Linked DNA regions of Homo sapiens: all the other regions are reported to be linked to region 2. The links are microRNA targets in miRTarBase. Many come from high-throughput screens and were not tested one by one. Region 2 holds a microRNA gene; each other region holds the end of a gene's coding sequence.

The links. The annotated mature microRNA hsa-let-7c-5p reads UGAGGUAGUAGGUUGUAUGGUU and lies in region 2 at 4,366-4,387, shown strand. An mRNA with a match to its seed (bases 2 to 7 or 8) in the 3' UTR can be bound and repressed. Matches are read on the target gene's strand: a 7mer-m8 pairs with bases 2 to 8, a 7mer-A1 pairs with bases 2 to 7 and ends in A, and an 8mer does both.
Region 1: miRTarBase lists MKRN1 as a target of hsa-let-7c-5p. The part of its 3' UTR that is shown has no 7-base or 8-base seed match.
Region 3: the mRNA of SLC35A4 is a reported target of hsa-let-7c-5p. The part of its 3' UTR that is shown has no 7-base or 8-base seed match.

Annotation. Positions count from the first base shown.
Region 1 is chr7:140,448,098-140,455,218 of GRCh38, reverse strand. It overlaps MKRN1 (makorin ring finger protein 1), which reads left to right. Exons shown (of 8, transcript NM_013446.4): 7 at 1-124; 8 at 490-2,186. The coding sequence ends at 702. Among named protein-coding and RNA genes, the nearest start is that of MKRN1, 28 kb to the left of the region's middle.
Region 2 is chr21:16,535,473-16,542,593 of GRCh38, forward strand. It overlaps MIRLET7C (microRNA let-7c), which reads left to right and starts at 4,356; the gene lies at 4,356-4,439. The region is part of intron 6 of MIR99AHG (mir-99a-let-7c cluster host gene); the gene reads left to right. MIR99A (microRNA 99a) reads left to right here and starts at 3,617; the gene lies at 3,617-3,697.
Region 3 is chr5:140,567,269-140,574,389 of GRCh38, forward strand. SLC35A4 (solute carrier family 35 member A4) reads left to right here. Exons shown (of 3, transcript NM_080670.4): 3 at 1-1,832. The coding sequence ends at 876. LOC131768270 (SLC35A4 upstream open reading frame protein) reads left to right here. Exons shown (of 3, transcript NM_001394034.2): 3 at 1-1,832. Among named protein-coding and RNA genes, the nearest start is that of SLC35A4, 6.0 kb to the left of the region's middle. RefSeq lists enhancers at 2,035-2,434, 2,466-2,967, 2,968-3,467.

The DNA of each region.
Region 1 (7,121 bases), not on the chromosome of region 2:
GTATTTTGATGAAGGACGTGGGAGCTGCCCATTTGGAGGGAACTGTTTTTACAAGCATGCGTACCCTGATGGCCGTAGAGAGGAGCCACAGAGACAGAAAGTGGGAACATCAAGCAGATACCGGGTAACTCTCACTGTTTTTTTAAAGGAGGGGAAATTCCAAGGTATCAGTTGAGTCCTGCACATATTGGGGTAGGGGAAGGAGAAGGTTAACGCTCAGGTCTGGGAGCGAAAGTGTAGAGTATTAAAGGAGGAAACAAACCTCAGAAAACTGGGAGGGATAGGAAAGGAAGAAAAAATGTGTGTTAAAGCTCTAGCCTAAACGATTTCCATGAAGTAACCAGAGGGGAGGAAGTGGTAAATGGAAACCCTAACTAAGAAGTCTGGTTCGTCATGCCCTCTGGTGTGCTGGACGTTTTGCCTTATAAACAACAGGATAGAAGATACTGCTCGACAGTGCCATCCCTATCATGGCCTTGTTTTTTACAGGCCCAACGAAGGAACCACTTCTGGGAACTCATTGAGGAAAGAGAGAACAGCAACCCCTTTGACAACGATGAAGAAGAGGTTGTCACCTTTGAGCTGGGCGAGATGTTGCTTATGCTTTTGGCTGCAGGTGGGGACGACGAACTAACAGACTCTGAAGATGAGTGGGACTTGTTTCATGATGAGCTGGAAGATTTTTATGACTTGGATCTATAGCAACCTTGCGTGGCGTGTGAACTGGTCTGCTGACCTCAGACAGCAGCTGTCCCCTGTGGTGGTGTGGCAGTGCCTGTGTTCTCTCCTAGGCAGGCCTCTCAACTCCAGGTGCTGTCCTAAGAATTTTTACCCAGGGCCTGTCTTCTCAACCCCTCACCTTTCCCTGAGGAGTGTGTTGTTTTCCCTGTTGAAAAAAGTTACAAAAATAAATCTTAAAGTTAGTTTTTTGTAACACGAATTTAACTGTCAGACAGTTAGTGTAGGTGTGTTGCGTCATCTGTTTTCAACCAGATTGCATTTATGGACTTTTCACACACTCATTTTGAGGACCCCAGGTTCAAAAGTAAAAGCAGTGGCCCTGCTTTGGGGTCCAAGAATAGGAGTGATGGGTGAAGGGACCTAAGCTGGCCAATAGCCCTCTGCCCCAGACATGGGATGTGGATCCTTGAGGTTTCTGGTGAAATCTGCACATCTGTGTTTTTATATCTGTTCCCTACCCTGTAATCCCTACCACGTGCACTTGTTCTGTGGTTTTGGTCTCTTGTTTAATTGCACACAAGTAATACTACTGGGTAACCAGAATCAGGTGTGAATGTGTTGAGATTTTTTACTGTTTTGCATGATAGGAAAATTGAGAAAGAATACGTATAAAAGATAGAGAGGCATAACATCAATGCAGAGTTGGAAGTTGGCTCCCAAGGGCTGACATGGTGTGAGTGTGTGGGTGTGTGATAAGCTTCTCATCCCTGCATAGATGCAGTATTCTTAGCCTTAGTAGAAAAACCTGGTTTAGTGGTTTAAGCCTTGTGTGGCAGATAGATCTTAAAGGGCAAAGCAGTATATTGGTAGTTGTCAATATAGCAGTGCTAGCTCTGTCTATATAAATAGAGAAATGGGGTTAGCCATAGAGGTTAAAACTACCTGGTTATCCCATATAATAACACAAACTGGGTCTTGGATACACAGTTGTATTTAATGTTTTACGATCTAGCCTTTCCAGTACAGGCACTTTCTGAGAAACCTTTGTCCTCACTTGAGGCATTTTGTTGTCGGGTTTTTGTGTTTGTTTTTGTGGGTATTTGCCTCATTCCACCCCTGAGCTTTCAGGTAGACAGACGTGATTCAAAACTCTGTTCTAAGGTGTTTATTGTAGTGGAGTAATGGGTTTGCAGTGATAAGTCATACTTTTCCACCGAAAGGGAGGGCTTGGGAATCCCTGAGATTAGCTAAAGTTAAGTTGTTGGAAGAATTCCTTGATTGGAAATTGTACCTTTGTGTTTTGTTGCTCTGTTTCCTGAAAATAACTCGGGGATGCTCCTGGTTTGTCCATCTACTGCTTTGATTCCTTGGATCCCACCCATTCTTTCACTTTAAGAAAAAACAAATAATTGTTGCAGAGGTCTCTGTATTTTGCAGCTGCCCTTTTGTAAGAAGCACTTTTCCCAAATAAAACAATTAAAAAAAAAGTTGGCTGTTCTGTGTAATGAGCTGTTTTTGAAATGTGCCGATGTCAAAGAATAATGATGTTTTTCTTTCACTGACTCTTCGATCGGTCCCTTGTCGGATATTCGGGAGGATAGGTACTTTGAGAAATGTGTGTGAGAGAGAAAGGGAAACCTTAACTAGCCGGGGTCATCAAACAATCCTATACTTGAAAATGTTCAAGACTAACGCTGGGCCACCTGTTGAGCAAAAGGCACTGGCAGTTTTCTGCTACCATGCACTTGCGGTTGAACTTGCTTCATGCCCTTAGATAACGGGGGAAGGTCATAATATAATTGTATTTTGAAAGCTTATTGTTCTGCATAATTATTTCGTGAATTTTTAAGGAGTTTTCATTATTGTGAATTTTTTGTGAGTAAGAACCATTCTGCTACTCCCATGGAAGACCTTCAGGTGACCTTTTTTCCACACTTGTAAAAATAACTGCTCCTCGATTTTAGTATTTATGTTAAGAATTTATGGCTGGGTGCGGTGGCTCACGCCTGTAATCCCAGCACTTTGGGATTACAGAGGCAGGAAAATCACTTGAACGTGGGAGGTGGAAGTTGCAGTGAGCTGAGATCATGCCATTGCACTCCAGCCTGGGCAATAGAGTGAAAAAAATAAAGAATTTGTGCTATGGGGGCCGGGCACGGTGGCTCACGCCTGTAATCCCAGCACTTTGGGAGGCCGAGGCGGGCGGATCACGAGGTCAGGAGATCGAGACCATCCTGGCTAACATGGTGAAACCCTGTCTCTACCAAAAATACAAAAAATTAGCTGGGCATGGTGGCGGGCCCCTGCAGTCCCAGCTACTCGGGAGGCTGAGGCAGGAGAGTGGCGTGAGCCAAGATCTCGCCACTGCACTCTAGCCTGGGCGAAAGAGCAAGACTCCAACTCAAAAAATGCTATCGGAAAATGTTTAAACATCTAGGAATCATTTCTGAGTGGGCTTATACTGTGGTCATGATAACAACTGGGGATCCACTGAGTAGTCTGGTCTGTTTCTGTAAGCTTGTAGCCCAGCAGCTAACTCCCAGGGGAGTTAAGTCCACCCTCAGGTGTACCAGTCAGGCTATGCTGGGGACATGCAGAGGGATGGGGAAGAGCCTGAGAATGGGTTGGGAGTGCTGGAGCTAGGAGGTGGAGAGAGCCTTGAGCAATTCTGGAAAGTAGGAAGAAGCATCGTTTGCATATCTGAATCTGCAACAGGGAGAGGGGGATAGCAAGGTCCAGGGAGTGGCAGTTGGTCACTTCTGGGATGGAGAGAAGTGTATGTTTAGAGCAACTCTTTTGTATCTTGGAAAAGGCAGTGGAAGCTTCTGTACTAGTCCGAGTAGTCTGTAATGTGGATTGCTACCCTCAATGGCTGCATTGAGAGCGAGTTCTCTTCTTTCCCCAAGTGTTAATTGCCTGTTGCAAAAGAAGCTGAGGTGTAAACATTGATGGGTGGAACGTCTCACCTTCTCATTTGCACAAAACTACAATTTCAGCCTCTTCCCTGCCACTGTACACAATAAGTGATTTCACATCATGCCAGTGATTTGGGGGAGAGAAGGGGCTTGATATTAATAAAGGTAGTTGATAAAGGAGGAGAAAGAGGCTTGATATTGATAAAGGTAGATATTGAAATGGTAGTCATAGTACTGGCAACAGATTTCCAACCCTGCTTTGTGGCTTCGTGGTTCAATTGCAAGGCCCAGCTGACTTACCTAGGCTGAAATGTGAGAAGTGTCATTGCCAGATGAAAGTTTAAGATCCCATACGTGATCCTCTTTCCAGGCAATTGGTAAATTTTGCAAAGTGGCTGTTCTACCAGCCTGGGTCACCATGCTGGTACACTTAGTTAACCCATGAGGGACATGGAATATGAGCAACCCATAAACCTTTGGGGTGAGAAGCCACTGAGCCAAACAGCCTGCCCTGTCTTGAAATCTTGTTTAAGCTGTCATTTTATAAGGAAAATTAAGCAAAATCCTTTTTTTTGTTTTGTGTTTTGTTTTTTTTTTGGAGACGGAGTCTTGCTCTGTCAACAGGCTGGAGTGCAGTGGCGCGATCTTGGCTCACTGCAACCTCTGCCTCCCGGATTCAAGTGATTCTCCTGCCTCAGCCTCCTGAGTAGCTGGGCTACAAGTGCATGCCACCATGCCTAGCTACTTTTTTTGTATTTTTAGTAGAGATGGGGTTTCACCATGTTGGCCAGGGTGGTCTCCATCTCCTGACCTCATGATCCGCCTGCCTCAGCCTCCCAAAGTGCTGTGATTACAGGCATGAGCCACCTCGCCCGGCTGAGAAATAATTTTTAAAAACATACTTGTTCATCTGAAGTGGTTAATACAAACTCACTCTCATGCAGTGGCCGTATTTTATTACTTTTCAGTGTCCAGGACTTATTTCACAAACCTTTAAACAAGTTTACAGTGTTGATAAAGGAAGTGCTCTGTTGCAAATTGTCTTAAGACAGCGCTTATTCCTTTGTATTGAATGACAGGAAGAGATCCATTGCTGATAATAGAATATGCCTCAGATCTTACTTCCCCAGAACTAGCCTGGGCACTTTGTTTAGTTCACTAGGTCTTTATCTCAGCCCCTCATCAGTGTATAGAAGAAATAACACCACACAGTACCTGAGCAAATAAAAGCATTTTTTAGGTTCTAGTGATGAGCTTTTTTTGTGGGATTTTGCTCCAATCACCCCAGCTGGAGTGCAGTGGCGCAGTTTCGACTCACTGCAACCTCTGCTTCCTGGGTTCAAGCGATTCTCCTGCCTTAGCCTCCTAAGTAGCTGGGACTACAAGCGCACGCCACCACGCCTGGCTAATTTTTGTATTTTTAGTAGAGACGGGGTTTCCCCATTTTTTTTTTTTTTTCCTGAGACAGAGTCTTGCTCTGTCACCCAGGCTGGAGTGCCGTGGCACAATCTCGGCTCACTGCAACCTATGCCTCCTGGGTTCAAGCTATTCTGCCTCAGCTTGTCAAGTAGCTCAGATTACAGGCGCCAACCATGACGCCTGGCTAATTTTTGTATTTTTAGAAGAAGCGGGATATCGCCATGTTGGCCAGGCCAGTCTGGAACTCCTGACCTCAGCCTGGAACTCCTGACCTCAGGTGATTTGCCTTCCAAAGTGCTGAGATTACAGGCACCACCACGCTCGGCCTAAAACTGTTAATGGATGACCTTTTTAGTAAAATGAAGGTATCCACATATTTTACAGATATTTGAGTCCTTGTGCATACAGGCACTGTACTAGTGCTAGAGATGCTGTGAGCAGAACACAGTTTGCAGAAGTGCTCATCAAACTAGCCCACTTGGTCCCTTCCACTTCCCAGGCCCTTTGCAGTTTGGTTGGTGCTGCATGGCTAACTCACGTCATGTGCCGTGTGCCCTCCTTGTCATCGTCTCTGTTTCATGGAGGTATTGGAAGCCATGTGTTAAAGTGGCAGAGTCACAAGACAGGAGGGATCCTGGATCTCTGTGTCATGGATAGAGGGAGAGCTCCCACCCCCAAAATCAGATTTTGTATAAACAAGAGATAAATTGAGATTTGGGAGATTTTGTTTTGTTTTGCCAGTAGCCTAATATGAAATATCCTAATAAGGCAGTTGTGGCCCTTCATAAAACTGGTGACTGCTTTCGATAGGGGGCCTGGGCTAGTGTGGCCATGGAAAGGTCATTTGAATTGAGATCTGAATGGCAGAAAAAGTGCCCTGCAGACAAGACATCCTGTGTTAAAGCCTGAGGCAGGCAAAGGCAAGACATCCAACAGCTTTTCCTTGACATCACCATTAAGGACACTCGATGGCCTACAGGACACATTGAATTTCCTGTGTTAGGTATAGCTTTTACTTTCAGAAAAGTATACATGCAAGTCAGTAACATTATAACAATGTCTAACATTTATAGGAATAATGTTGGATTGCCTTAAAATACCAAAAACATTCTTCCTACAATTTAATGCTTTACTAAACTGCAACACACTCACCTGATCATGACCTGCTGCAGTTGGAACCAGTCTCCACAGCAGGGCTTCTCAGCCTTTAACGTGCAAATGAATGAGAGGAGGAGGTTCTTGTTAAAATGCAGATTCTGATTCAGTGGGTCTGGAATAGGCACAAGACACTTATTTGTATTTTTTGAGACTGGGTTACTCTGTCACGGGCTGGAGTGTAGTGGTGCCATTGTGGCTTGCTGTAGCCTTGACCCCCTGGGCTCAGGGGATTCTTCTGCCCCAGCCTCCTGAGTAGCTGGGACCACAGGCACATGCCACCATGCTCAGCTAATTAAATTATTTATTTATTTATTTATTTATTTATTTTGAGACGGAGTCTCACTCTTGTCGCCAGGCTGGAGTATAGTGGCACGATCTTGGCTCACTGCAACCTCCGCTTCCCGGGTTCAAGCGATTCTCCTGTCTCAGCCTCCTAAGTACCCGGGACTACAGGCGTGCATCACCACACCCAACTAATTTTTGTATTTTTATTAGAGACGGGTTTCATCGTGTTGGCCAGGATGGTCTTGATCTCCTGACCTCGTGATCCGCCCGCCTCGGTCTCCAAAGTGTTGGGATTACAGGCATGAGCCACCGCACCCAGCCAATTAAAAAAAAAAATTCAAACTTGGTTCCATAGGCCAAAACCAGTAAGAGCAAATCCTGCAGGCAAATGCATGTAGAGGAATTTTGATTTAAGATTTGAAATAATTTACAACTGTAAACGACCATATGGAAGTGCAGACTGTATTAAGAGGTAAGGAGGTGTAGCAAGGGTACTGGTAAAAGAACTACAGACACCCTTTTATCCTGCTGGCGTTCAGTAACCAGTACAATCTAGCAAGGTAGTGGTCAATAAACCATCATGGATGCGACGTTGAAAGGCCCAGTCCTTTCTTTAGTCTGATTTTTGAAGTATTCTAATAATAACAGCTGTTATTCTATTAC
Region 2 (7,121 bases):
AAAAAAAAAGAGACGCTCCTGCTCAAAAACAAAAACAAAAGCAAACAAACAAAAATCCAAACCAAAACAAACCAAAAAAAGCAAACATTGGCTGTATAACTACAGAGACATCGGGCTTTGTAAATCAGCTTTTTAAGGCAACATAACCAAATGAGCCTTCTTTATTTTTATTATTTCAAACCATATGGCATAATTAGCAATATATTGCACTTGGTGAAATCGCACCTTTCATATCAGGTATAACTTTTTTTGTTGTTTTTCTTTTAAAGGCTACTGTTATATAAAAGGGAATCCTTGAACTTTTAATTTACTTTTATTTAACTCATTGCCCACTTTACTCTTATTAACTTTTTCCTTTTCCTCTCTTGCTCTAATCTTGATTAAAATAGAAACTTAAGGAAAGATAGAAAAATCTCTATGAAAAAGACAATACATGTTTTTATGTGGGGTATACACAGAAGTTTTGGAAAGATATTAATATATCTGTGCTTTTTGTGTCCAGTATTAGTTTTTGCTATCTAAGAAAAGTGAATGTTTAGACCTAGTGGGTAAAAAAAGTAAATCTTTCATGTGACTTATAATTTGAAATGTGAAAGAAGAAACTTTTTAAACTTGTAGAAAAGGGTTATATTAGAATATGCGTTGAATGACTGATAAATAAGATTGCTTTTGGGGAAGTTATATTCAAATTATTTACAAAGATTTCAGTAGAACAAAAATAGGAATGAGAAGAGCATGTTCTCAGTTGCTAGGTAGAAAAGAAGCTTCTTTCATAATAATATGCTCTTTTAAAATACATTTTAAAAGAAGTACTTGTCCTAGAGCAGTTGCAAAAAGCATTGGAAATATCAAGTGTATTAGAAAAAGTACATGCAAACTTGTTTTAAGTTCAGAGCAATGTATTGGCTCAGCAGATAACTGCATTGCATTATAATTATTTTGTCTGTTTGTAGAAGTAAATTGCTAAGCAATTTAAGCATTTTATTAAAAAAACAGTTTTGCCTGGTTCAGTGTGAAAGGATTAGCAGATGCATTCCAGCTATTTTAGTTTTGATAAAAAATGTTTCTAAACAAGTGTAAAAATAATTTTTAAAAGAGAATGCTTTTGAAAAATTCAGCAAGTATCAATGAAAACTATAATTTGCATACTAAGAATTGACGTTATAATATTTCGGTAAAAATATACTTTGGTAATCTGTTATGCTTTTAAAATCATATTTTCTTATATTACAAATATGTAGGGTAAACAATGAAAAATGTAGAACTGATTAATTCTGCCTTTGTGTTTGCTATTCTATGAACAATTACAGGAAATTGCAAAATCCCTATATACTGATAACATTCAAATAAAACGTTCTGTTGGTTATTGTTCACTAATTATTTACAAAATAGCTCTTGTACCTCCATGCTGCCTCAGCTAATGGTACACCAACTTTCACTGGCTTAATTAATATTGATAAACCTGTTTCCATGTTTCAAGATCCGTTTAAAAACATTATTTTAAATGTTATTTTTAGCAGCCATTAATCTCTACACTCTTAATTATCTTATTAAGCTCCATGCCAAATCCAAATCTCTTTTCAGCTTTCGCTACTTCATTGTGCAAAACCTAGTCGCTTCTTTAACAGCCATCGTCCTTTCACTTTCAAAACTGTTACTGTGAAAACAACACGAACCAAAATGAACGCATAAATGCAAACTATGAAACCACTTTATATGTCATATGAGTAGCCTGGGTGGGGCCCTGTGAGTCTTCCAAGGCTTTAAAAAAAAAATACTTTAAAAGGTTTTGCCCATTTTGATATCGTGTTTTCTTCTCGATCGTCTACCCTCATTCCCACGATCCACTCAGATGCTCCTCCTAGACAGCAGTTGTCTGATATTTCTCCTTTTGTGGTTGTTTTAGGGAAAAACTTAAAATGGATATGAAAAGTGAAGAAAGTGATCATAGGAGAAAACCATTTCAGGTAAAAATAAAAAACAAAGAGCAAATAAGATTTACTGTTTTTAAAGAAAAACAACATTCTTTTGACTGTGTTTTGTTATAAGAATTAATTTCATATTCTTTATGAGTGTAACTGTTGAAATTTTATTGATGGTTTTCATTTGAAAATGTGTGCTATGACCTACCTTTGTGAAAAATTTCTTGTGGTCAATTGGGCAGTTTGTGTCCCATTGAATATATGTCTGTGTATCCATACGCTTAAGATAGGTGCAATACGGTTTACTAGAAAGCTTTATAGGAAAAGAAAAAAATTATATTTTCTTATTTGTTGTACCATATAAAAGGAAGTGAAATCAGGAGGAGGGGAATAAGGTCATGCTTTTTCATCTTTTTTACATGACCTGATAAGACAATGAAACCAAAACATGCTTTCTTATAGTTATGGTAAAACTAAACCCAATGCTGCCTCTTATTTCACATTTGCATTTATAAATATATGTTGAAATATTTTTACTACAACTGAATGTATGATTGTTGATTATTTACTATAGTTTTTAATAATTATGAGGACAATTTAAGAATAAATAATGGTTTAAAATTATGTAGAACACATGATCTATATAAAGGCTATAAAACGTATTTATTTCAAAATATGCAAAATCACTAAGCAATTAGTATGTAGTATTATTTTACACAATAAAGATATAATTAGGAAATGCTAAGTGATTATAGATGTGAAATGATTAATGATTGTACAACTTATCATTTTGTTGCAGTTGAGTTTACAATCTTAAAAAAACGTGTATGTGGCTGGCTTTATGTTTACTCGTTTGTGTGTTTGCTTGTTGTCTGGTGGTTTAAAACATTTTTTAGTAATATTTTATTTTTGCCCAACCTGTTGACCAGATGAGAGTTGTATGTAGCCATGCATTTTAAGTGTATCTTTTTTGAACAATAAGTTTAAATATATTTTATTTAGGAAAGAAGATATCCTATGTCATGTAATACATCTGGAGTATAAATGTTAGTGTGGAGTATTAGTAATCATGCCATTATCGTGCCATTTAGTTTAGTTTTATATTAACTCATCCAAATATTGTAAATTTTAGCACCATTCCGACTATAGACACAGATGTATATATTTAAGGCTGATAATAACTTCCTGTATTCTCTAGCTAGTGAACAAGATCTTACTGTTTTATGAGAAAGTTATAATGTTACCAATTCCTTGAAACCAGTAACTAAACTAGTTTTATAAAAATTAAAATAAGCACGGTCTAACTCATACACAATTAACTTAATAGTTAATTTGGTTTTAATTATAGGCTCGTAATACTACATTCATGCCTCACAATTATATAATTCATACATGCATGTATGGATTCTTTTTTCTTTTAAAACTCAATTAGAATAGTTTAATTCCAAAATATTTACTATTGAAACAAAAGCAGTTCGTGAAAAATTTTTCAATAAACTACTTTTTAAATTCTCATGCATATAAATTTGTATTTAGTTTTGAATATTTATGAAGGCCTTTAATGGAGAATATGCATCCTTAGAACTCAGCATTTAAAACATTTATACTAAAGGATCAATATTATTTTTGACTCTTAATTGCATCAGATATTTACAACAAATTCTATATTAATAGGGGGCCCATGCAAGATGTTGCCCATTGGCATAAACCCGTAGATCCGATCTTGTGGTGAAGTGGACCGCACAAGCTCGCTTCTATGGGTCTGTGTCAGTGTGGTAATCTGACAAAATGCTATACACAGTGCCGTTCAACAATAGTTCAGTAAAATCCTGTTAAACTCCAGTTGATTATATACTTTTGAAGTCATTATATTTTCCTTTGTTTTTAATGTTTATTTTAATCATTGTCTGTCTTACAAGGCAGGCTTCAATTCTCAACAACTTGGAAGCGTTTATATCACACCCATTCAAGTTCGATTCCATGTACAGTAAATTGCATAAGAAAGTTGAACCTTTATAGCAGGGTTTGGACCAGGATCTGAATAGATTCTGTTCAGAAACTTCAGTGCATACTGTAGTGCTTAGTGTACCTCTTCAACTTCAGTAAGAAAATTAAAGACTACCATTGGATTTATATGTTTTTATTGAGCCTATTTCTCCTGAAAAAATGAGGCTGAATGCAATTGACTTTTACTATTAATTGCGACTAGAACTATGGCAGGTTAGATGGTCAGAAGACATTTTACGTGACCTATGCTGGAAACCCAAGTGTTTAGGTTAGTCCTATGAGAAACAGTTAGCAGCAAAGTTTACTGGTAAAATGTTAGAATATTATATCTATATCCTTGCCAAGCCCTTAGGTGTATGGCTGCCATATTTGGAGGAGCTGACTGAAGATATGATAAGGAGTTTGAAGCAACATTGGAAGCTGTGTGCATCCGGGTTGAGGTAGTAGGTTGTATGGTTTAGAGTTACACCCTGGGAGTTAACTGTACAACCTTCTAGCTTTCCTTGGAGCACACTTGAGCCGTCGAGGAATTCTTCATCACTTTAACCTGATTGAGCCAATTTGTGTGCAAGAAGGTAATGTGTCATGAGTATCTTGGATCATTGATTTGGGCCTTTATTACATTAAAATGATCATTTCAGCCCTATTAGATTATTCCATTTGTATCTGCTTATGAACAATGTCAAAATGGTATTTCTAATGGGTTGTCACTCCATGTTCAAACATTTTAAGAAAATTGTAGGTAGTGACTTAAATTGCATTAATATTAAAGCTTTTTATCATCTATAGATTAACAAAATTCAGACCTTAATTTTCAAATGGATCATTGGTCTATTTATATTGGCTGCTTAGACACTATAATAAAAAATGTCTGCTAGAGTTAATAGCTCCCATAGCACATTATTTGCGTTTTCCTTATGACACATCACTTTCTACCTTATGTTATGGCTATTTATGTGCTTGCTGATTTTTTCCGCACTAGACTGTAAGCCCCTTGAGGGCAAAGTCCATGTTTTATTTTTCACTGTATCCCCTCCAATGCCTTACTCATAATGAGCACTAACTATTTATTGGATTAGTGAATGGAGTGTAAGACCTCACTCTGTGATGAGTTTCTATTGAATATTTGAATGAGTTATGGCAGTGGTCAAACATCTGAGTTTTATTTATTGCTCCTAAAACTGTTTAAATTTAATTCCTGGACTGCTCCGCATCAGTAATACATGTGTCGATTTTTGACTGTGTTGAATGTGTTCATTCATTCTAAACAGATAAGTTAAAATTTAGAAGTACTTTTTATCTAGAATAAAAATAATAGAGTAAATTCATTTTTACTAATTAGTTCATGACAGTTTATGATCCTACACTTAGATAATTCATATTTCTGTTGAATTTAAATACCTTTCTTTCCAGATGAATCGTTTTTCTTTTAGCATCAATTTCAACTAAATATTCTATTTTAAGTCTCATTTAACAATATGATTTTTAAAAATTAGATTTGTGTCTTTTGTGTATTTCCCTCGTCTCCTGCCCTTTATTTTTGTACAGCTATATCTGTTGAATAAACCAGAAGCAACTAAACCAGAAACATGTCAATAAATTAATAATAAATATGTATATAAAGTATAATTTGAGAATGTGAACACATTTTTGTTTAAAGGAAAGGCACTTTATAATATTCTTTGTGTTACAAAGCAAATGGGACTCTTTGGAACCTTAGTTTGCTGTCAACTTTAGCAGCTGTTAGTGGTGTAATTTGTGTAGTGAGGCTATCTTACATAGATCATCTTTCAGACACAGGATTAAGTAGTTGTTGATGTTAGAACTTTAATTTAAGACTCCAAATATGAAACATGGAATTCATTAAAGAGACGTTTAGATGCAAATATATATTAAGGACCTCAAGATACTGGCTATGTGGTGCTGACCTTTCTAGAATGCTCAGGCATCCAAAATATCTTAATACCTAGAACTTGCTAACAATGTAGTGAAGAAGGAATGGCTACCCCCAACACGTAGAACATGTGAGCCTTAGAAAGTGAATACCAGTCACTTCAAGCAAAATAATTTGATTGGTCTACAGTAGTAAAGACTCTTTCTCTCTGTGAAAGAAAAATATTTGCAAGGACTAATCAAGAAGCAATGAATAAGAGGCAGTAGACATAGACCTAAAACAAACAAACAAAAAGACATGAAGAGATGAAAAGGAAAGTGACTCATAGCAAATAGGAACACCATTGTGTCTAATGATGGCAGTTCAACCCACGGATGAAAGAAAGGGACAACTAAATGGGTAAACAATTGTATCTTTATAAATAGTTTTTTCCTTGAGAGCCTAGGATCCCTTTCCTATGTGTTTCTATGTATGTATCTCCCAATACTAGGTGTATTTATTTAGAAGCCAAATCTATTGATGGGCCAAATAGAATATGATTGCCAATAAATGTCTATTTCCTTACAGTGTAATGGAGTTAAGTGCCTCACAGAGGTCAAGTAAGATGTGCAGTTTAAGGATAATCTTACAAAAGTACTATAATGAATTGTTAGAATTACAGCCTCTTTTATATACTATCACCTAAAGTGAATGAGTATAATAGAAGAATAATTGAAGAATGGTGAAGATGTCTCTATGATTCATTATGTTAGTTATGTAGAAATCATAAGAAAAAATCTGACCAGGTGTGGTGGCTCATGCCTGTAATCCCAGCACTTTGGGAGTCTGAGGCAGGTGGATCACTTGAGGTCAGGAGTTCGAGATCAGCCTGACCAAAATGGTGAAACCCCATCTCTACTAAAAATACAAAATTAACTGGGCATGGTGGCACACACCTGTAATCGCAGCTACTTGGGAGGCTGGGGCAGGAGAATAACTTGAACTCGGGAAGCGGAGGTTGCAGTGAGCCTAGATCATGCCATTGCACTGCAGCCTGGGCGACAGAATGAGACTCCGTTCTCAACAACACAAAACAAACAAAACAATAAGACAGAAAAAAACCTGCAAGGTGGAGGATATAGTTAGTACCAATGAAGAAAATTTTTAAAACTTCTCTGTAGGACAAGAACACTACGTGGAAGAATTGTATGTTTGCCTTTGATTCATAATAAATTTTGCTACTCCAGGTATGAGGGCTATGTAACTTGCTACAGGTTTATAAATAAATGGCAAATGTCAGATATAGAAATTGATAGGAT
Region 3 (7,121 bases), not on the chromosome of region 2:
GCCCCATTGCTGGCACTGTGCCATGTGGACGGCCGAGTGCCCTTCCGGCCCTCCTCAGCCGTGCTGCTGACTGAGCTGACCAAGCTACTGTTATGCGCCTTCTCCCTTCTGGTAGGCTGGCAAGCATGGCCCCAGGGGCCCCCACCCTGGCGCCAGGCTGCTCCCTTCGCACTATCAGCCCTGCTCTATGGCGCTAACAACAACCTGGTGATCTATCTTCAGCGTTACATGGACCCCAGCACCTACCAGGTGCTGAGTAATCTCAAGATTGGAAGCACAGCTGTGCTCTACTGCCTCTGCCTCCGGCACCGCCTCTCTGTGCGTCAGGGGTTAGCGCTGCTGCTGCTGATGGCTGCGGGAGCCTGCTATGCAGCAGGGGGCCTTCAAGTTCCCGGGAACACCCTTCCCAGTCCCCCTCCAGCAGCTGCTGCCAGCCCCATGCCCCTGCATATCACTCCGCTAGGCCTGCTGCTCCTCATTCTGTACTGCCTCATCTCAGGCTTGTCGTCAGTGTACACAGAGCTGCTCATGAAGCGACAGCGGCTGCCCCTGGCACTTCAGAACCTCTTCCTCTACACTTTTGGTGTGCTTCTGAATCTAGGTCTGCATGCTGGCGGCGGCTCTGGCCCAGGCCTCCTGGAAGGTTTCTCAGGATGGGCAGCACTCGTGGTGCTGAGCCAGGCACTAAATGGACTGCTCATGTCTGCTGTCATGAAGCATGGCAGCAGCATCACACGCCTCTTTGTGGTGTCCTGCTCGCTGGTGGTCAACGCCGTGCTCTCAGCAGTCCTGCTACGGCTGCAGCTCACAGCCGCCTTCTTCCTGGCCACATTGCTCATTGGCCTGGCCATGCGCCTGTACTATGGCAGCCGCTAGTCCCTGACAACTTCCACCCTGATTCCGGACCCTGTAGATTGGGCGCCACCACCAGATCCCCCTCCCAGGCCTTCCTCCCTCTCCCATCAGCAGCCCTGTAACAAGTGCCTTGTGAGAAAAGCTGGAGAAGTGAGGGCAGCCAGGTTATTCTCTGGAGGTTGGTGGATGAAGGGGTACCCCTAGGAGATGTGAAGTGTGGGTTTGGTTAAGGAAATGCTTACCATCCCCCACCCCCAACCAAGTTCTTCCAGACTAAAGAATTAAGGTAACATCAATACCTAGGCCTGAGAAATAACCCCATCCTTGTTGGGCAGCTCCCTGCTTTGTCCTGCATGAACAGAGTTGATGAAAGTGGGGTGTGGGCAACAAGTGGCTTTCCTTGCCTACTTTAGTCACCCAGCAGAGCCACTGGAGCTGGCTAGTCCAGCCCAGCCATGGTGCATGACTCTTCCATAAGGGATCCTCACCCTTCCACTTTCATGCAAGAAGGCCCAGTTGCCACAGATTATACAACCATTACCCAAACCACTCTGACAGTCTCCTCCAGTTCCAGCAATGCCTAGAGACATGCTCCCTGCCCTCTCCACAGTGCTGCTCCCCACACCTAGCCTTTGTTCTGGAAACCCCAGAGAGGGCTGGGCTTGACTCATCTCAGGGAATGTAGCCCCTGGGCCCTGGCTTAAGCCGACACTCCTGACCTCTCTGTTCACCCTGAGGGCTGTCTTGAAGCCCGCTACCCACTCTGAGGCTCCTAGGAGGTACCATGCTTCCCACTCTGGGGCCTGCCCCTGCCTAGCAGTCTCCCAGCTCCCAACAGCCTGGGGAAGCTCTGCACAGAGTGACCTGAGACCAGGTACAGGAAACCTGTAGCTCAATCAGTGTCTCTTTAACTGCATAAGCAATAAGATCTTAATAAAGTCTTCTAGGCTGTAGGGTGGTTCCTACAACCACAGCCATGATTGTCTTGTGTCTTCTGTCTGCGCAACTCCCCTCAAACAATTTTGTTCCTCTGGGGTCCTGAGTATCTTAATTCTGGGATAACTTTTAGACTAAGAAAAAATTGTTTTCTCCAAGCTGTTGCCAGTGGCATTATTTCCTGTGAGAGTTCCATGGAACTGAGACATTTCCCTGTCATAGAGCTTTTGAAATTTCCCTGGAGCACAAAACTTGGGCCCAGGGGAATGCGGAGAGAGTCTTGGGAACAGCAGGTGCTGGGCCGAGCAGGACAAACTAGACTCTAGGCCAAAAAACTCTTAAGAAAGCCGATGTGGTTTCGGTTTTCATTTCCTCTGGTTCCCTTACAATTTCTGCCTGTCATCTGTCTTAAAATCATGGCCAGGGGAATGTCAGGCCCTGATTCTATGATAGAATATGTGGTGAGTTTCTAAAAAAAACCAAGGGGGTTGGGGGGGGGCCCTAGGCCTATCTTAGACCTATTAAAGCAGAATCTTAGGGAGTAGTGTTTGGGAATCTTTTTCTTCTTTCTCTTAAGCTCCCTAGGTGGTTCTGATGCACACAGAAGCTTGTAAGCCACTACTGTGCAGTGTAGAACTATGGACAGACTTGAATTTGAATTCTGGATCTTCCACTTAGCTGACTGTTCTTGGGCAGTTATTTAACCTCTCCTAGCTTTAGTTGCCTTATCCCTGAAATAAGGATCAAATGGTACCTACTATATGTGGTAGCTGGAGAGGCTAAATAAAATAATATTAGGCACTTAGTAAGGACTGGAACAATGAGACATGGTTTGTGTTATTAATTATCCATAATAAGGATCAGCTTGGTTTTGTCTCACCTTTTTCTCCCTTCTAGGACCCTCCAGAATGAGGAGACAAGAAACTTCCTCTAAAGGGTTCCTGTTAAGGTTTCTCCCCAGGACAGGTCCAGCATGACTACCCCCAGCCTAGTCTGCACCCTGCTGAAGCTGCTGGTTCTCAGCTTGGAGCTCCTGATTCTGTGTGGCCAGGTTGATGGTTTCTTCCAGGGTGCCCGCCAGCAGGCTGCAGTGATGATGCTCTGTGGTCATGGCCCCCTCCTCCCACTGGCCCTGCCAGGCTCAGAATACCTGTGCCCAGATTCAGAGATGCCTGTCACTCAGCCAGCCTTGGAGCCAGCTCAAGGCCTACCCTCCATCCCCACTGATGGGCAGCACATGGTGTGTCTGAGCTCGGGTGGCCTGCACATGCAGGTCATAGAGGGCTGCCAGGTCCTGCTCTGCTGTGTTCCGCTCTTCCTGAAGGGCCTCCAGCTGGAATCTCAGCACCATCTGTTCCTGCTGCCATCTCTGCCTCTCCTCGCAGGCCTTCAGTGATAACACATACTCTTTGGAGTGCCACCTGTGTGCCAGGCTCTGTGCTAAATACTTCAGGTGTATTATTTTATCCAATAACAACCATATGTGGCATTGCCATCTTACAGATTTGGCAACAGTGGATCAAAGAAGTGACCTAACTTGCCCAAATTCTCATGGCTAGTAAAGGTCAGAGCTGACATGGCACATGCCTTTCAATGGTTTGCAGCTCTCCTTGGGGTAAAGTCCAAAGCCAGAGCTGTGGCACACACTTGTCTCTTTAGCCTTGCTTCTGACTACGCACCTGTTCAGCTCCAGCCAGACTGGAGAATTTGCAGTTCCCAGACCCACTTTGCCATTGCTTCCCTCTGAACTTTTGCTTATACTGTTTTGTCTTCTCTAAGAACATGTCCCCACTCCACCCACCCCCCATCAGTTACTGATGAGCAGTAACTGCCCTTGTTAAGCTCAGTGTCCAGTGAATTCCCCTGGCTGATCTCTGCCTGTCCTTTGAGGCTCAACTTAGATTCCATCTCCTCTGATCCACTCCAGCCTGGGTCAGATATGCCTTTTTGGTCCCACACAACCCTAGATCCCCCATCCCATCACTTAGCACTGAGAATTGCCTCATCTATCCCTGACAAGGCTGTGAGGGCCATGAGAGAGGGTATGAACTGGTCGGTTGTGATTGATGATGGATCCTAGCCCCTAGCACAGTGCCTGGACCAATTAGAGCCTCAAGTCCCCTATTTGACCCTCCTTACCTCCTCTTCAGCCACCAGGCCTTTGACCTGGTCATCTGCCACCTCCTCCTTCTGTTCCAAATGCTTCAGCTTCTCTCGAATCCAAATTTGGTGCTGCTCCCTCAGTCTCTGCCTCTGGGCCTGGGCCAAGAAGAGCGGCCGGGCCACATCTGGTATCTGCTGGGCTTGGTCAGAAGTTCATGTGTGTGCACGGATTTAGGACCAGAGCCCAACTTTTCCAATAGAACCTCATCACCAGGGCTGCTCCCAGAACAACATCCAGGACCTAACTAGCCTGGAAGAGCTTGTAGCCTGGGCAGAGACTCAGGAGGCCATGGTGGGGAGAGGAAGGTAGTGGCTCTGCCAGGAGGTGCCATAGTGCCTCTAAGGATCCTATACCCTTAATCCAATAAGTAGGAAAACAGTCCCTCCCCATGGCCTTGCCTTAGGGGTCTAGTCACCTTCAGGTCCTTTATTTGTCAAAAACTTCATATTTCTCCCTGATATTGGGGCAGGGTAAGCAGGGGCACATTAGCTGGGCTCTGCAGCTCTTCACTCCCCCTACAGCTTCTAGTCGTTCCTGGGGTACATGAGGTATTACCTATTCCTTAGGGTGCCTGAGAGGATTCTTTTGGTGGAGCCACGCCTTAGAGTTGCCATTCTTCCTGCCACTAGAGGAAAATGTAATTAATCACACCAAAGGCAGGGAAGACGTCCCACTCCCAGCTCATCCCCAAGTCCCAGACCCACCTTGGGGCTCTCCCTCGAGGCATGGGCTCTGGTTTACTGGTGACTCTATCACCTGCTGAGAAGATATTAGAAGTGATCGTTCCACACCTTTCCTCCCAGTACAGTGTAGGTTAAGATCAGGGCTTGGAAATCAGACAGATCAGGGTCCCAGCCCCTCCTCTTCTTAGCTGAATGACCTCGAGCAGGTGACTGGCCTAGTCTCCATGTGCTTCTCTATCAAATCGAGCTGATAAAAGTTGTGGAGAGAATGAAATGAAGTACTGCACCGAAAGCACTGGGCAGTAAGGCACTTGCTCAATAAATAGGAGCTACCATGCCTGATTCCCAAGCCCCAAGGCTGTAAAAACAAGTTCTAAGCAACTATGAAAAAAGAAGAGAAAGGCCAGGAGAGGCTGGACAGGGACAGGGTTTCAACCACCCTGTGATAAATCATGGAAGACCAGAAAGGCCATGCAGCCTAAGGAGATGAAAGAGCACTAGATTAGGAGTCTAAGGACTTGAGTGTGATTATACTTCTGCTGCTCCTGATTATGCCTGTGACCCCAGGCTCACAGGTCTCACATCTTTTATTTTTCTTTTTCTTTTTTATGACAGAGTCTCGCTGTGTCACCCAGGCTGGAGTGCAGTGGTGCAATCTCAGCTCACTTCAACCTGCGCCTCCTGGGTTCAAGTGACTCTCCCACCTCAGCCTCCTGAGTAGCTGGGACTACAGACATGCGCCACCATGCCTGGCTAATTTTTGTATTTTTTAGTAGGGACGGGGTTTCACCATGTTGGCCAGGCTGGTCTCGAACTCCTGGCCTCAGGTGATCTGCCCATCTCAGCCTCCCCAAGTGTTGGGATTACAGGCGTGAGCCACTGCGCCCAGCCCTCTCACATCTTTTCTTTTTTGAGATGGAGTTTCACTCTTGTTGCCCAGGCTGGAGTCCAATGGCGTGATCTCGGCTCACTGCAACCTCTGCCTCCCAGGTTCAAGTGATCCTTCTGCCTCAGCCACCCGAGTAGCTGGGACTACAAGCGTGCGCCACCACACCAGGCTAATTTTTGTATTTTTAGTAGAGATGGGGTTTCTCCATGTTGGCCAGGCTGGTCTCAAACTCCTGACCTCAGGTGATCCGCCCACCTCGGCCTCCCAAAGTGCTGGGATTACAGGCATGAGCCACCGCGCTCAGCCTCACATCTTTTCTTTAAGCCTCAGTTTGCTCACCTGAAAAGGGCACAGTGCTCTTTCCTGCTTAAAATACTTCTGTGGCTCACCTGTGACCTTTAAGACAAAGTCCAAACACCTCTGTTTTGCAAAGCCCTGTGTGACCTGGCCCCTGCTGTCCTCTCCAATACTTCTCTCCTGACTCTTCCTCAAGTTCTGTTCTTCAATAAATTGAGCTACTTGCACTCCCTCAAGGGGACCAAGCACTTTCTTGCCTCTGAGTCTTTGCCTGTCATTCTCTCTGCCTTCAGGTTCTTCACTCATCTTTGTTGACCTCCTTCAGGAATCACTTCCTCCATGAAGTCTTCCATCCCTCTCTTGCCAAGGCTAACTTAGATGCCCCACAGAATTCTGTGTTTATAAGCCTTTCAGAGCACCGATTATGGTGGTGCAATTGTTTCCTCCCAGGAGATTATAAACTCCATGAGGGCAGGGAATTCCCAGGGCCTATGTGGCACTGGGCCCAGCATACAGTGGGTGGTCAATAAGTGTTTGGGAATCAATAAGTCAATGAATGAATGGAGGTCTTCCTCAAAGTGCTTTGGAAAGAGGACAAGAAGGCAGACTGCTCCTTGGAGCATCTGGCTTCTTGGGTGCTGGCTCCACGCTTTTACCACCTATGGAGAAAGGGTTCAAGGTGGGTACTGGCCATGGCTAGCCCAGGTGCCCTCAGGCTTCACCTTGCTCACCTCTAGCTCCCGCAGTGCCCTTCCCAGCTGGCTTAGCCCACTGTCCGTCAGGGTGTCCTCAAGGAGGCCTAAACGCAGGGGCCTCAGGCCAGCCCGGCGGGCCCGAGCCTCTTCTACTGCATCCCACAGGGTGGGCCTCACCTGTTTCACCTGCATCCTCCTTCCTGAGGCCCCCAACAGAGCAGCCTGGAGCAAACTGAGGGAGCTACCTAGTAAAGGGACACTCCAAGTGAATTACTCCTTCCTGTGGACTCCAAAGCACGCTGCTTGTGATACTTTTACTTTTTATTAGTAGTACTATTCATAAAAATATCTAACTCCCACTAGACTTTTACATATGCTTGATGGCACTTCACTAAGGCTGTTCATGGATTGCCTCTTTTTATCCACACAACACTCCAATCAGGCAGAAGCTCTAATCTATCCTGCCTCCCCCGACATTTTCCAGATGAGGCAATAGAAGCTCAAAGAGGTCAAGCAACTTCTTGGCAAGTGGCAGAGCCTAAACTCAAGCCCATGCCCTTCAACATGATACCAAACTGGCCTGAAGATAAACACGTCTGGCC